Linked DNA regions of Homo sapiens: region 2 is linked to region 1. Evidence: fine-mapped expression QTL. Tissue or cell type: whole blood. Region 1 holds a variant in brackets; the other region holds the start of a gene. All regions are shown on one strand. Distances are between the middles of the regions.

Region 1 (7,856 bases):
TCCGAGTTGGGGCTGGCACAGCATCTTTTACTAACTGCACAGTAGCCAAGTCAATGGTTCTCAGAGATTGCAGGTTAAAGAACCCAAATCATCTTCAGAAGAGCTGAGCCTCAGCCTAGCTGTGAGGCACTGACTACAGGGCGTGGAAGGCCCAGTTCCTTCCCTGGCAGGCGGTCAGGCAGGGCCAACACTAACGCGGTGGAGCCGCTGGGGAGGCCCTGGGGAGGACAGACAGGAGGCTGGGCTCTACCCAGCCCCTCTGACCACAGCAGCCCAAGTGTCCTGGGCTTCTCAGGACTCAGCACTGAACCTGCCAGGCTGCCCCAGCAGGACGTGGAAGGGGGCCCAGGAGAAGGGTGAGGCCTCCCTAGTGCCCTGGCCTCACTCTCCTACCCAGCGGGACAGGACAGGACTCAACTGGGTCCCACCTGGGCCAACAACAAGGACGTCCCTGGGCACACAGGAACACAATCTGGCCAGCAATGCGGAGTGGCAGCTTAGGGACAATGCATGTGGCATTGCTGGAAACACATCACCAAAGACCACCCAGAGATGTGACCAGGGAGCCCAGGACCTAACTTCACTTTAACTTCAGTTTTTTTGTTTTGAGATGGAATCTCACACTGTCGCCCAGGCTGGAGGGCAGTGGAGCGATCTCAGCTCACTGCAACCTCCGCCTCCTGGGTTCAAGCGATTCTCCTGCCTCAGCCTCCTGAGTAGCTGGGACTACAGGCATGCACCACCACACCCGGCTAACTTCTGTACTTTTAATAGAGACAGGGTTTCATCCTGTTGGCCAGGCTGGCCTCAAGTGATCCACCCGCCTCGGCTTCCCAAAGTGCTGGGGTTACAGGTGTGAGCCACCACACCCAGCCTAACTGTAGTTTTAAGAAAAATTTCTCTATTCATAAAGCTGGAAAGAATTCTAGGGAACAACCTCTCCACAGTTTAGAGCTACAGACACCAACGTGGAACAGTATCTAAAGCGTCACCCAAAAACCCAAGTGGCAGGAATACCTGCAGCAAGGCACCCAGCACGGAAGGCGGGAGCACAGGCGCGCAGTTCCGTAAACCGCCAGGTCAGGAGGGAAGCGGGTCCAGATTTGGGGCTGGGCCGTGGGGGTGGGAGGGAGGGGGCCGGGTGGGCGCCCAGGCACTCTCTGTTACTCGCTATACCCTTCCCCACACGTGAGTTATTATATTACAACCAAAATGGCTTAAAAAGAAAAGTGCTTCAATCTTCCTTGTCAATGAAAGCAGCAATTCTGCCAGATCTCCTCTGTGAGGCAGGAGGAGGCTGATCCCAGACAACTCAGGGTCCCAGGCAGGAGACCGGCAGTCCTGGCGTGAGCAAACGCCTGGGGCCAAGGAGGCCACCCAGGGGCATGTCACCCTCTGTGGCCATGGCCAGGGTGGGGCTGGGTCAGGACGAGCAGCCCTGTGCACCTACCGTCGGCTGCGGCGGGCGTGAGGGGAATGTACTCGGCCGACGTGGGGCTGCTCAGGGACACACGGGCTCCTGAGAGGTCAATCTTTGTGCTGCGGCAGGTGTTGGAGCAGACCTTGTCATGCTGGTAGAAGTCCAGTTCCCCGGAGTCCATGATCTTCCTGTGACAGACAGTGGCATGGAGCGTCCAGGTCGGCCCCAGAGCCGAAGGCACCTGGCCCGCCCACCCTGACCTGGGCCATCCACCTGCGTGGGGCAGGCCTAGCAGAGGCGCTGGCAGCTCCACAGGGCAGGGTGGGCTCTACTTCCCTCTTAGCGCGAGCTCGGCGTGCAGGACCCTGCTGCTGAAGAAGCAGCCGGCCCAGGCCCACGCTACGGCACTGTCCCCAGGAAGGGGGCAAGCGCTGGCCAGTGGGTGTCCTGGAGGTGCCCGTCAGAGTCTGTGGGGCTGGGCCTTTCTGGGATGTCCCACTACCCCAGCCCCAAGGGAGTGACCCACAGCTAACAAAGGTGGGCCCAGTCCACCTGCATCATGCGTGACTCATTCTGAAGCAGAGGAAGGTGGGAAATCACTTCCAGGAGAACCTTCCTCCTTCTAAAGGCACAGAGACAGCCAAGAAGAGTGATGAGGGCGCAGGACAGCACCAACGGCCATGGCTGCCGCTCATCCTCATCTTTACCAGGAAGGCTTCGTACGGCCCAAACTGCTGAGAGCCGCCCTCCCAGGGCCCTCTCTTCTGCCTCTCCGGAGGTCCAGGGTCTCAGTCCTGTGTGTCTCAACGAGCCTGCCTCGACCCATGAAACGAGGGTCAGAGGCTCCAGCCTCATTCAATCTTTGGGCAGCACTGACCTCAGGCACACACAGGCTAATGCTTCTGTGGTCAGCTCAGGACTTGCCTACCTGGCCGGTGGTCCCCACAGCTGTGCCACCAGCCACGTTCCAGAAAATCAGAGGCCAGTTCAGCTGGACAGGGAAAGGACCTGAGCCATGGGAAAGGACCCAGGGCTAGTCACTCGTGAGGTCTCAAACTCTGACTCCAGCACAAAGCAGGGGCCCTCCTTGGGAAGCAAGGTAGAGGCCAGGCCCACAAAGACTGAGACTGAGGCTTATGATTCACAGATAAGTGAAGGCCGGGCACGGTGGCTCATGCCTGGAATCCCAGCACTTTGGGAGGCTGAGGCAGGTCAATCACCTGAGGTCAAGTGTTCGAGACCAGCCTGGACAATATGGCAAAATCCCGTCTCTACTAAAAATACAAAAATTAGCCGGGTGTGCTGGCGAGCACCTGTAAACCCAGCTACTGGGGAGGGTGAGGAAGAGAATCGCTTGAACCCAGGAGGCAGAGTTCGCAGTGAGCCAAGATCATGCCACTGCACTCCAGCCTGGGCAACAGAGCAAGACTCCCTCTCAAAAAAAAAGTGAAAGAAAGGACAGAAATAAGGAGTAACATAAAAGGCCAAAATCTGATGCACAAATACCAGATTATACCTTTCTTTTATTTTTTATTTTCAGAATGCATAATTGGAACAGACCCTTTTCTTTTCCTTTTTATTCTTGTTTTTTTTTTTTTTTGAGACAGAGTCTCACTCTGTAACCCAAGCTGTATTGCAGTGGCACAATCACAGCTCACTGCAGCCTTGACTTCCAGGCTCCAGTGATCCTTCCACCTTAGCCTCTCGAGCAGCTGGGACCACAGGCATATG[T/C]CACCAAATCCAGATAATTTTTTTTTTATTTTTAGTAGAGATGAGGTCTCATTATTGTGCCCAGGCTGGTCTCAAACTCTTGGCGTCAAGTGATCCTCCTGCCTCAGCCTCCTAAAGTGTTGGGATTGCAGGTGTGAGCCATGTGCCCAGCCAACCCTTTATTTTACAACGCTGAAACAGTCACAAGTGCCTTCAGGTAAAGAATTGGTGGAAATTAAAATGACTGACAAAACAATTCTAAAAATCTGATAGTGTCCCTGTTGGCAGGAGTGTGGGAGACGGGTTTACAGTTTTGGGTGTGAGCAGGTGCAGCAGCCACCCGGGAGGTTGTCAGCACTCACCACATCTAAAATACGCCTCATCTTCAAAATCCCAAAACCCCACAAGAAAGCAAGAGCTGCCAGGGCCCCTTCCAGCAGGGAGGCTGACCCTGCGCCAGCGCCCACCTGAGCATGATGCCGTTCATGCGGATGGCTCTCTTCCAGTCCTTCAGGGTGGACTTCCCGGCCAGGTGCACAAATTCCTTTGGGCTGATTACATGCTCGTCGTACTGTGGGGGACACAGTCATGTGGGTCAAGCTTGGCCGGGACACCACATAGGGTGCCCCCATCTCCCATCCGACCCTGAGTCAGGCGCGCAAGGCAGGAAAAGCGCCACGGCACGGCTCTGACCGGTGCAGGCCTCCTACAGAGCATTCAGGTAAAACAAGGACATGACCCACAGGCACGGTGGCTGCAGTGGGGAGTGGTGTCTCCTCCAGCCCTGAGGGGGCAGAGCTGCTGTGTGCCTGGGGCTAGACAGGGCTGGGCTGACCACACCAGGTAGAAGGTGTGTGGCCTTCTCTTCCTCCAGGCAGACTAAGCAAACTGCTTCTGTGCAATGTATTTTATAAATACACGTTATTGCATACGTTACATCGCAGATGGCAACAGATGCCAGCACATGGGTGGAGCTGTGAACGCCACCTTCCTCAGGTCCCTCCTGACACCACCTTGCCCCGTGCAGCAAACACCGGCACCTGCTCTCACTCTGACACACACACACACACACACACACACACACTCATCTGTTTCTAAGCCAGGGGAACCCTCCTGCTTGCTAATTTCACCCATGTGGGAGCTCAGAGAAACTGAGAAGGTAAAATATCCTGTTCAATCTTGTTACACAAGCAATTATTGAAACCAAAAACTGGAATAAAACTGCATTTACTTAGAAAACAAGCAGGCTGGGGATGGAGGAGTCACGAGGTCTCTGCAGCTGGACCCAGGAGGCCCGAGTACGGGGGCCGCCTCCACCCCCGGGCCGTGCCCAAGTCTAGCTTGCTGAAGGAAGTGATGTTCCCAATCCCTGAGCCCACCCTCTCATGACCCCTGTGCCACAGACGGGAACACTAAGCCCAGCCAGTCTCTGGCTCTCCCTCATGCGGCTGATCAGGGAGATCCCATAGAAGTCCAGAAGGTGGAATCCAGAAGATTCTCTGGCCACTGTCGGAGCCTGGCAGGAAGGCTGCACTGGCTGTGACTGAGGCTGCTTCCGGCCATCACTTCTACCCAACGTGGCTCACACCTAGGAAACTCAACTGCACCCAAAGGGCCTGATCCTACCTAGGGCTCTGGGCTCAGCCAGCCTCACCTCCCTGCCCCTCCTAGGCCTGCCTCTTTCCTTTCTTGCTTTCACCTTTGTTACTCTTCTCACCCCAGGTTTTCCTCTCCCAGCTAGGAAGCTACATGCTGTACTCTCATGAGTGGCTCCAGGAGCTTCAGCATGTCACGCTTACCAGAGCTGCCAGAGCCCAGAGCTAACGCGGCCACTCCTGACCCCCCAGAGCTAACGCAGCCGCTCCTGACCCTCCAGCGCTAACGCGGCCCGCTCCTGACCCCCCGGAGCTAACGTGGCCGCTCCTGACCCCCCGGAGCTAACTCGGCCCGCTCCTGACCCTCCAGACCACAGCCACGTGGCCCTGCTCTCATCTCTGAGGCCCTCCAGGGCGTCTCTCTCGATGCTGAATAGACAGGACTGGTCGGGTGACCCACGTTTCCCCGACTCTTCACACCTCCTCACAGCACAGCGCTTCCATCTGGAGGCCTCCTATCTCCGCCTGCAATGCATATTTAGAACATCCTTCCATCATGATCTGCTGGTGGCAAACTCGTGTCTTTTTCTGGAAACGTCTTTCTTCCAGCATAATTTCAAAGACGACCTCACGGTGTCGTCACTCGCCACACAGTGAGGCTCTGGCGCTGCCACCTCTGCTCCTGCGCTGCTTTCGGGAGCTCACGGCCGGCGGGATTCTTGCTACTGAGCGATCCGTCTCTCCTCCTGGCTAGACTGAGGATCTTCTCTGTCCCCGTCCTTCTGGAATTTCATTATGATGTCACCTATGGTACATTTCTTTCGTGTTTCCAACTTCTAATTCTAATACAATTTCAAACTCACAGGGTAATTGCCAGGATAGTCCAGGGAGCTCTCACACGTGCGTTCCGGACTCACTGCCTGCTCCCGTCTGCCCCCTTGCCCCCGCCTAGACCTGTGCACGTGCAGCTACTGAGAGTGAAGCAGAGACGTCGGGCCCCTGGGCCCTCAACACTTGTGTATATTTCCTAAGAACAAGCTTCTCTTACGCAGCCACAGAACAACTCGCATCAGGAAATTATCATTCATACATTATTCTCTAATCCATTGTCCATAGTCAAATTCATGAATTGTTCCAATGATAGCCTTTATTGCAAAAAAAAAATTTTTTTTTTTGAGATGGAGTCTCACTCTGTCGTCCAGGCTGGAGTGCACTGGTGCAATCTTGGGCTCACTGCAACCTCCGCCTCCCGGGTTCAAGAGATTCTCTTGCCTCAGCCTCCCGAGTAGCTGGGAGTACAGGCACATGCCACCATGCCTGGCCAATTTTTTTGTATTTGTCGCAGAGATGGGGTTTCACCATGTTGGCTGCGCTGGTCTCGAACTCCTGACCTCAGGTGATTCACCCGCCTCGGCCTCCCAAAGTGCTGGGATTACAGGCGTGAGTCACCATGCCCAGCCTACATTTTTTTCTGATGCAGGATCCAGCCCAAGACTGTGGAGCATGCAGCTGCCTTGCTCTTCGGCTTTTGTCCCCATTAAGACTGCAGCAGGCCGGGCGCGGTGGCTCACGCCTGTAATCCCAGCACTTTGGGAGGCCAAGGCGGGCAGGTCACCTGAGGTCAGGAGTTCGGGCTCAGCCTGGCCAACATGGCAAAACCCCATCTCTACTAAAAATACAAAAATCAGCCAGGCATGGTGGTGGGTGCCCGTAGTCCCAGCTACTCAGGAGGCTGAGGCAAGAGAATCACTTGAACCCAGGAAGCGGAGGTTGCGGTGAGCCAAGATCGCGCCATTGCACTCCAGTCTGGGCAACAGAGGAAGACTCCATCTCAAAAAAAAAAAAAAAAAAAAAAGACGGAGCAGCTTCTCAGCCTGTCTGTGTTTTTCTTCACCTTGACGTTTTTGGAGCTTGTGGGTCAGGTATTAACGTAGGCTGTCTCTCCATGAGTGTCTGCTGTTTTCTCATGAGTAGAGTCAGGCTATGAACTGTTGGAAGAACACCACAGACCTGCTCACTGCATCAGGAGGCTCAAAGGGGAGGTCTGTCCCGAGCCTGATGATGTGAAGATGGATCGCTGGGTTAAGGAGGCACCTGCCAGCTTTCCCACCACAGCTACGACTTACGTCTGCAATGGCTGCATGGTTTACAGGGATGCTCTGAAACTAGTCTGAGCACCCGCTCATGACTCTGACCCCATCATTCCTCCCATGCTTTACTTCTCTCTATGCATTTATTTAACATAAATAAATAACATGAAATATATGGAGATAGGTATATAGACTCATAGATTTTATTTTACTCGAGTGATGACCCATGACTATCACTATTTATTTGGATGCTAAAAGCCACCCTACATGCAGGCAGTGGGGTCTTCATCCAGGCTGGGGTCAGTCAGGGCCCTTGCACTGTGGACCACTCTTTCTCAGTTATGAAAGTTCTCAGACTCTCTCTCCTCCTTCCAGAACTCAAATAGATGTGTTTGACTCTCGTGCTTCCTGAATAAATTGCTTTATTTCTATTTACAAGTCCTACTTCTCTCTTCAGCTATGGCTAATCTGCTGAAGACCTATCCACTAAGTGTTGAACTTCAATCCTATCTCTAGTCGTGTTTCTGCAGAATCTACTTATGCTTTACTCATGCTCTCTTTTCTTTTTTTTTTTTTTAAGAAGAAACTGGGGTCTCAGTATGTTACCCAGGCTGCTCTTGAACTCCTGGGCTCAAGCAATCCTCCTGCCTCGGCCTCCCAAAGTGTCAGGATTGCAGGTGTTAAGCCATGGCACCCGGCCTCTTTTATTTCTTAAAATAAATTATTAAATATAACGATTTTATCTTCTAAGCCTTAAAACCCCAACAGCCGAGGCTGCTGCAGGGCCGACTCTGCAGCCTGTGGCTTCTGTGGGGCCTGTGGCTTCTGTGGGGCCTGTGGCTTCTGTGCTGCCTGTGGCTTCCGTGGGGCCTGTGGCTTCCGTGGGGCCTGTGGCTTCCGTGCTGCCTGTGGCTTCCGTGGGGCCTGTGGCTTCCGTGGGGCCTGTGGCTTCTGTGCTGCCTGTGGCTTCTGTGGGGCCTGTGGCTTCTGTGCTGCCTGTGGCTTCTGTGGGGCCTGTGGCTTCTGTGCAGCTTGTGGCTT
Region 2 (6,451 bases), 29 kb after region 1:
GGAAAGTTACAATGATGAATTCGTTTACACTGGCGGAATTACTTCGTATTTCTCAAATATAATGTTTTCACTAGCATAACTTTGTTGTTGTAGACTTAGGCTTCAAAATAAAGAACTTTAAACAAACATGAATAAAAAGCCACTTTAGGCCGGGCGCGGTGGCTCACACTTGTAATCCCAGCACTTTGGGAGGCCGCGGCGGGTGGATCATAAGGTCAGAAGTTCAAAGACCAGCCTGATCAATACGGTGAAACCCCGTCTCTACTAAAAATACAAAAATTAGCCGGGCGCGGTGGCAGGTGCCTGTAATCTCAGCTACTTGGGAGGCTGAGGCAGGAGAATCGCTTGAACCTGGGCAGCAGAGGTTGCAGTGAGCCAAGATCATGCCACTGCACTCAAGCCTGGGTGACAGAGTGAGACTCTCTCTTAAAAAAAAAAAGCCACTTTAAAATTTTACTCAGGCCAGGTGTGGTGGCTCACGCCCATAATCCTAGCACTTTGGGAGGCCGAGGCGAGCAGATCACCTGAGGTCAGGAGTTAGACCAGCCTGGCCAACATGGTAAAACCTTGTCTCTACTGAAAACACAAAAATTAGCTGGGCGTGGTGGTGTGCCCATGTAATCCCAGCTACTCAGGAGGCTGAAGTGAGAGAACTGCTTGAACCCGGGAGGCAGAGGCTGCAGTGTGCCAAGACTGCACCACTACACTTCAGCCTGGGCGACAGAGCAAGACCCTGTCTCAGAAAAAAAAAAAATTCAAAAATTTGGCCAGGCGTGGTGGCTCACGCCTGTAATCCCATCACTTTGGAAGGCCGAGGCGGGTGGATCACCTGAGGTCAGGAATTCAAGACCAGCCTGGCCACCATGATGAAACCCTGTCTCTACTAAAAATACAAAAAAAAAAAAACAAATTGGCCGGGCATGGTGGCGGGTGCCTGTAATCCCACCTACTTGGGAGGCTGAGGCAGGAGAATCTCTCGAACTCCGGAGGCAGAGGTTGCAGCGAGCCAAGATTGTGCCACTGCACTCCAGCCTAGACAACAGAGCGAGACTCTGTCTCAAAAAAAAAAAAATTAAAATTAAAAAATAAAAATTTCATTTAAAATACTACTGATCTCCCGTGCTGACTTCTCGGGGTTTAACTCTCACTGAGGAGACGCTGCTTTCATAAGGGTAAGCTCAGCAGGGGCAACTAAAGTCATTTAAGCAGAGAGCTGCAAAGAGGCAACAGCCTCACTGCAGGCAGGGGTCCTCGTCACAGCTTCAGGGCTTTGCAGAGGATTACGCAATGTACACGCACAAAACTGAATTCCAGCCTCTCCATTGGCAACTGCATACATACATATATTCTTTTTTTGAGACGGAGTCTCGCTCTGTAGCCCAGGTTGGACTGCAGTGGCCCGATCTCGGCTCAATGCAAGCTCTGCCTCCCGGGTTCAAGCGATTCTCTTGCCTCAGCCTCCTGAGTAGCTGGGATTACAGGCGCCCACCACCACGCCCGGCTAATTTTTGTATTTTTAGTAGAGACGGGGTTTCACCATGTTGGCCAGGACAGTCTCGATCTCCTGACCTCGTGATCCGCCCGCCTCTGCCTCCCAAAGTGCTGGGATTACAGGCGTGAGCCACTGAGCCTGGCCTCCAATGGCAACTATATTAAAGGTTCAAAGCAATATGCACAAAAGTTACCTCACAGAAAATAGTGCAAGTCCTTGATACAATGCTCTTTAGACACAGAAGAAGCACTATAGAATAGAGCACCTCGCCCTATTGCCTTCCCAAGGGCGAGCACCCCCTCCTCTCTCCACAGCTCCTTCTTTGTTTTTTTGAGATGGAGTCTCGCTCTGTCACCCAGGCTGGAGTGCAATGGCAAAATCTTGGCTCACTGCAACCTCCGCCTCCCGGGTTGAAGTGATTCTCCTGCCTCAGCCTCCCGAGTAGCTGGGACTACAGGCACCCAACACGCCTAGCTAATTTTTGCATTTTTGGTAGAGACGGGGTTTCATCATGTTGGCCAGGCTGGTCTCGAACTCCTGACCTCCAGTGATCCTCCCACCTTGACCTCCCATAGTGCTGGGATTATAGGTGTGAGCCACTACACCTGGCCTCTCCACAGCCCCTTCTGTGTTGAAGCCAAGACCCACCCAGCTTTGATCCCAAGGCTTGGGTTCCCCACTAGTGTGAAGTGAGTTTCCAAATTATTAGGTAAATCAGATATGAGAAAATATTTTATTTTACTTTTTTTTTTTTGAGACGCAATCTTGCTCCGTCACCCAGGCTGGAGTGCAATGGCACCATCTCCACTCACTGCAACCTCTGCCTTCTGGGTTCAAGCAATTCTCCTGCCTCAGCCTCCCAACTAGCTGGGATTACAAGTGCACACCACCACGCCCGGCTAACTTTTGTATTTTTAGTAGAGACAGGGTTTCACCGTGTTAGCCAGGCTGCTCTCAAACTCCTGACCTCATGATCCGCCCACGTCGGGCTCCCAAAGTGGTGGGATTACAGGTGTGAGCCATCACACCTGGCCCAAGAAAATATTTTTAAACTAGTATTCTTGACCGGCACGGTCAACACTGATGTAATTGAAACTGTTGTATTTGAAGTGTTAGCAAAGAAAGAGAATTCTGGTTCAACAGAAAAGTCAGTCACGACTTTTCAGTCACGCATGAATTACACAGTAACCAAATAGATAACATGCCATGACTGACGACGGGCCCACAACAAATCAGCTCCGACCAACAGGGTCCACACCACCATGGGTCTACACAGATCCAGGTCCCGCCTGTGAGCCTACAGTGACGCGGGCCCCTGTGGGGTGGTCCCTGCAGGTCAGGTCCCTGAGAGTGGGTCCCAGTGGGGTGATCCCTGCGGGTCGCGTCCCTGCGAGTTGGGTGCCTGCCGGGTGGCCCCTGCGGGTCGGGTGCCTGCGGGGTGGTCCCTATGGGTCGCGTCCCTGCGGGTCGGGTGCCTGCGGGGTGGCCCCTGGGAATCGCGTCCCTGCGGGTCGGGTGCCTGCGGGGTGGCCCCTGGGGATCGCGTCCCTGCGGGTCGGGTGCCTGCGGGGTGGCCCCTGGGGATCGCGTCCCTGCGGGTCGGGTGCCTGCGGGGTGGTCCTTGTGGGTCGCGTCCCTGTGGGGTGGTCCCTGTGGGTCGCGTCCCTGTGGGGTGGCCCCTGCGGGTCGCGTGGTGGCCCCTGCGGGTCGGGTGCCTGCGGGGTGGTCCCTGTGGGTCGCGTCCCTGCGGGTCGGGTGCCTGCGGGGTGGTCCCTGCGGGTCGCACCCCTGCGGCGTGGTCCCCCCGGGATGGGTCCACCGAGGAGGCCGCTGGAGGCCGAGCCCGCGCCCGCCCGCGGCGCCAAGATGGAGGCAGGAAGCGCCGCCGCCCGCGCCCGCCACCGCCCGCGCCGCCCGCCTGACGCCGCCGTTGCGCCTGACGCCGCCGCCCGCGCGGCCGCCCCTCCCCCGGCCCTCCCCTCCCCCCGCCGTAACGTCCTGACGCTCCGCAGGGACCCCTGACTGGACGGCGGCGCGTGAGCGGAGCGAGAGGCCTCGCCGCGGGGGGGCCGCGGGCTCGCCGGCGCCGCTTACCTGGGGCCGCGCCGGGCCTGCTTAGGCACCCGGCGGGGGCGGCGGCGTCGGGAGCTGCGGCGGCGGCGGGCGGCGGCGGCGGCCGCGGGCTTCGCTCCTTGTTGGGGATTCGGCGGCGGCGGCGGCGCGGGCGCGCGCTTCCTAGTGACGCAGGCGGCGGGGCCGCGCACGCACGGGGCTGGGAGGGCCGGACACTTATTTGGCGCTCGCGGAGGAGGAAGGCGGGGCCGTGAAATAAGGCCCGACGGGCCCCGGGGCGCGTGCGCGGACCGACACTGTCAGCTCCTAACGCCGCAGGTTCCTCCTGGTCCCCGAGGCCCCCGGTCGGGCGTTGCCTGCCCCGCGCGGGCGGCCGGGCCGAGGGACGATGGTCAGTGGACGGACGGCGCCAGGGAGCAGTGCCCACGCGCGGCAGGGCGGTACCTTCAGGCCTCCAGGTACGGGCGCTCCTCGCCCGGACGCTGCTGTGTGTGAATGGGCGCGAGGGGACTCCCCTGCGGGGCGGACGCCTGAACACGAGGCTGTGGAGGAGGACGCTGTAGGGTGCGCGGACTCACGCGGAACATGCCAGAGGCTCAGCCAGCCACGGCGCTCCCAGCGTGGAGGGCGAGGGGCATCCGGGAGCGGCCGGGAGGGCTCGGTCACCCCTCAAGCTGTCACCCCAGTCCCACAACCAGCACCCCGATCCTATCGCAGTCCCACAGCCGACACCCCGATCCCACCCCTGCCCAACAGCCGGCACCCACCCCAATCCCATAGCTAACACCCCGGTCCCACCGCTGTCCCACGGCCGGCACCCCGATCCCACCCCAGTCCCGCAGCTGGCACCCCGATCCCACCCCAGCCCAACAGCTGGCACCCACCCCGATCCCACCGCTGTCCCACAGCCGGCACCCCGATCCCACCCCAGTCCCGCAGCCGGCACCCCGATCCCACAGCCGGCACTCACCCCGATCGCATAGCATAGCTGATACCCCGATCCCACCCCAGTCCCATAGCCAGCACCCCGATCCCACCCCAGTCCCATAGCCAGCACCTCGATCCCATAGATGACACCCCGATCCCGCCCCAGTCCTATAGCCCGCACCCCGATCCCACCCGAGTCCCGCAGCCGGCACCCCATCCCACCCATGTCCCACAGTCGGCACCCCGATCCCACTCGGATCCGGCAGCCAGCTTGGATCCTGTGGCCCTCCTCCAGCCCCCAGGGCTCATTTATATGTTTTATTGGCAGAGGCTGGGGCTGGCTCTGTTGGCCTCTGTGCTGGGTTTCTTCCTCTGCACCGCAGGACTGGCTCTCCTGACCTCTCCAGGTGTCATCGAACACCCTTGTGCTTGCTGTCACCCGCTGCCTGTCTGCAGGATCCCGGATTCCGTATCAGGGGACCGAAATTAGTCGGAAAATAGGAAGCAGGTGCTCGCTTGGATGGAACCCTGACCCTGTGCTCACACTTGTAGGAGGAGGGCTCTGCAGGCCGCCTCCCGGAACGGGAGGTTCCCAAGCCACTGCACTTCGGAGGGGCTGTAATTAGAGTTGCACATTCATTCAGTTCCCAGTAAAGTAGAACGTGCTCCAGCCAGTGAGGAAAAGGTGTTTTTAAAAATTAGATTGGCCGAGTGCGGTGGCTCATGCCTTTTACCTCAACACTTTGGGAGACAAAGGTGGGAGGATCACCTGTGGCCAGGAGTTCAAGACCAGCCTGGGCAACAGAGCCTGTCTCTGGGGAAGAATAAAAAAAAAAATTGAGCCTTTGTCAGTGCTACTATTTTATTATCTGGTAAATATGAGAGGGTTCACGCGGTCTATGTGTGTCATTTATCTGAGTTTGCCTATCGTCACGTTTTGGAAATAAATGTCAATAAAGTCGAAGAGGAGTGCTGAGGGGGGCCTGGGGATGGGAGGGTGGCTACATCATGCCTGTGTGTTGCGCAAGCCCACCGAGGTCGGCCTGGGGTGAGCCCTGGGGCCTGTTCTGCCTCCTTCACTCTGGGGCTCCAAGAGACAAACTGGGCAACAAGAGAGAAACTCCATCTAAAAAAAAAGAAAAATCACCTCCAAGATAACTTAGCTTTCTTCTGCTGGCATAACAAATTATCTCAAACTTAGTCGCTTAAAAATGCAAATTTAGGCTGAGTGCGGAGGCTCACGCCCATAATCCTAGCACTTTGGGAGGCCAAGGCAGGATTGCTTGAGGCCAGGAGTTCGAGACCAACATGGCCAGAACTGTCTCTTTTTAAAAAATGCAAATGTGTCCGGCACGGTGGCTCACGCCTATAATCCCAGCACTTTGTGAGGCCAAGGCGGGCAGATCACGAGGTCAGGAGATAGAGACCATCCTGGCTAACACTGTGAAACCCCCTCTCTACTAAAAATACAAAAAATTAGCCTGGCGTGGTGGCAGGCGCCTGTAGTCCCAGCTACTCGGGAGGCTGAGGCAGGAGAATGGCGTGAACCCAGGAAGCGGAGCTTGCAGTGAGCCGAGATGGCGCCACTGCACTCCAGCCTAGGCAACAGAGCAAGACTCCGTCTCAAAAAATAAATAAATAAAACTGCAAATGTATTCTCTAACTGTTCTGTAGGTCGGAAGTCCAGCCCAGCCTCACTCCGCCAAAATCAGGGTGTCTGCAGGGCCGATTGCTTTTGGAGCTCCAGGGGAGAAGCTGTTCTGGCCTTTCCAGTTTCTGGAAGCACTTGAGCCCCTTGTCTCGTGGCCTATCCCACACCTGAAAGCCAGCCAAAGCCAGTTGAGTCCTCACCCTGTTGGCCCCGACACTGATCTCCTGCCTCCCTCATCTGCTGTCAAGGCCCCTTGTGATGACATGGGGCCACCAGCTGGCCCAGGGCACCTCCTGTCAGAGTCCGCC

The links. PIP is the estimated chance that this variant, and not a neighbour inherited with it, causes the effect.
Region 2: MHENCR starts here. The variant in region 1 is fine-mapped to the expression of MHENCR in whole blood (INTERVAL, PIP 0.93).

Annotation. Positions count from the first base shown.
Region 1 is chr20:63,594,160-63,602,015 of GRCh38, forward strand. It overlaps GMEB2 (glucocorticoid modulatory element binding protein 2), which reads right to left. Exons shown (of 10, transcript NM_012384.5): 5 at 3,598-3,701; 6 at 1,451-1,608. Among named protein-coding and RNA genes, the nearest start is that of HELZ2, 24 kb to the left of the region's middle. RefSeq lists an enhancer at 3,647-3,816. The variant T/C (reference allele first, on the strand shown) is at 3,152.
Region 2 is chr20:63,623,370-63,629,820 of GRCh38, forward strand. It overlaps MHENCR (melanoma highly expressed competing endogenous lncRNA for miR-425 and miR-489), which reads left to right and starts at 3,866. Exons shown (of 2, transcript NR_132417.1): 1 at 3,866-4,023; 2 at 4,821-5,455. GMEB2 (glucocorticoid modulatory element binding protein 2) reads right to left here and starts at 3,732. Exons shown (of 10, transcript NM_012384.5): 1 at 3,587-3,732. RefSeq lists silencers at 3,094-3,633, 3,724-4,173.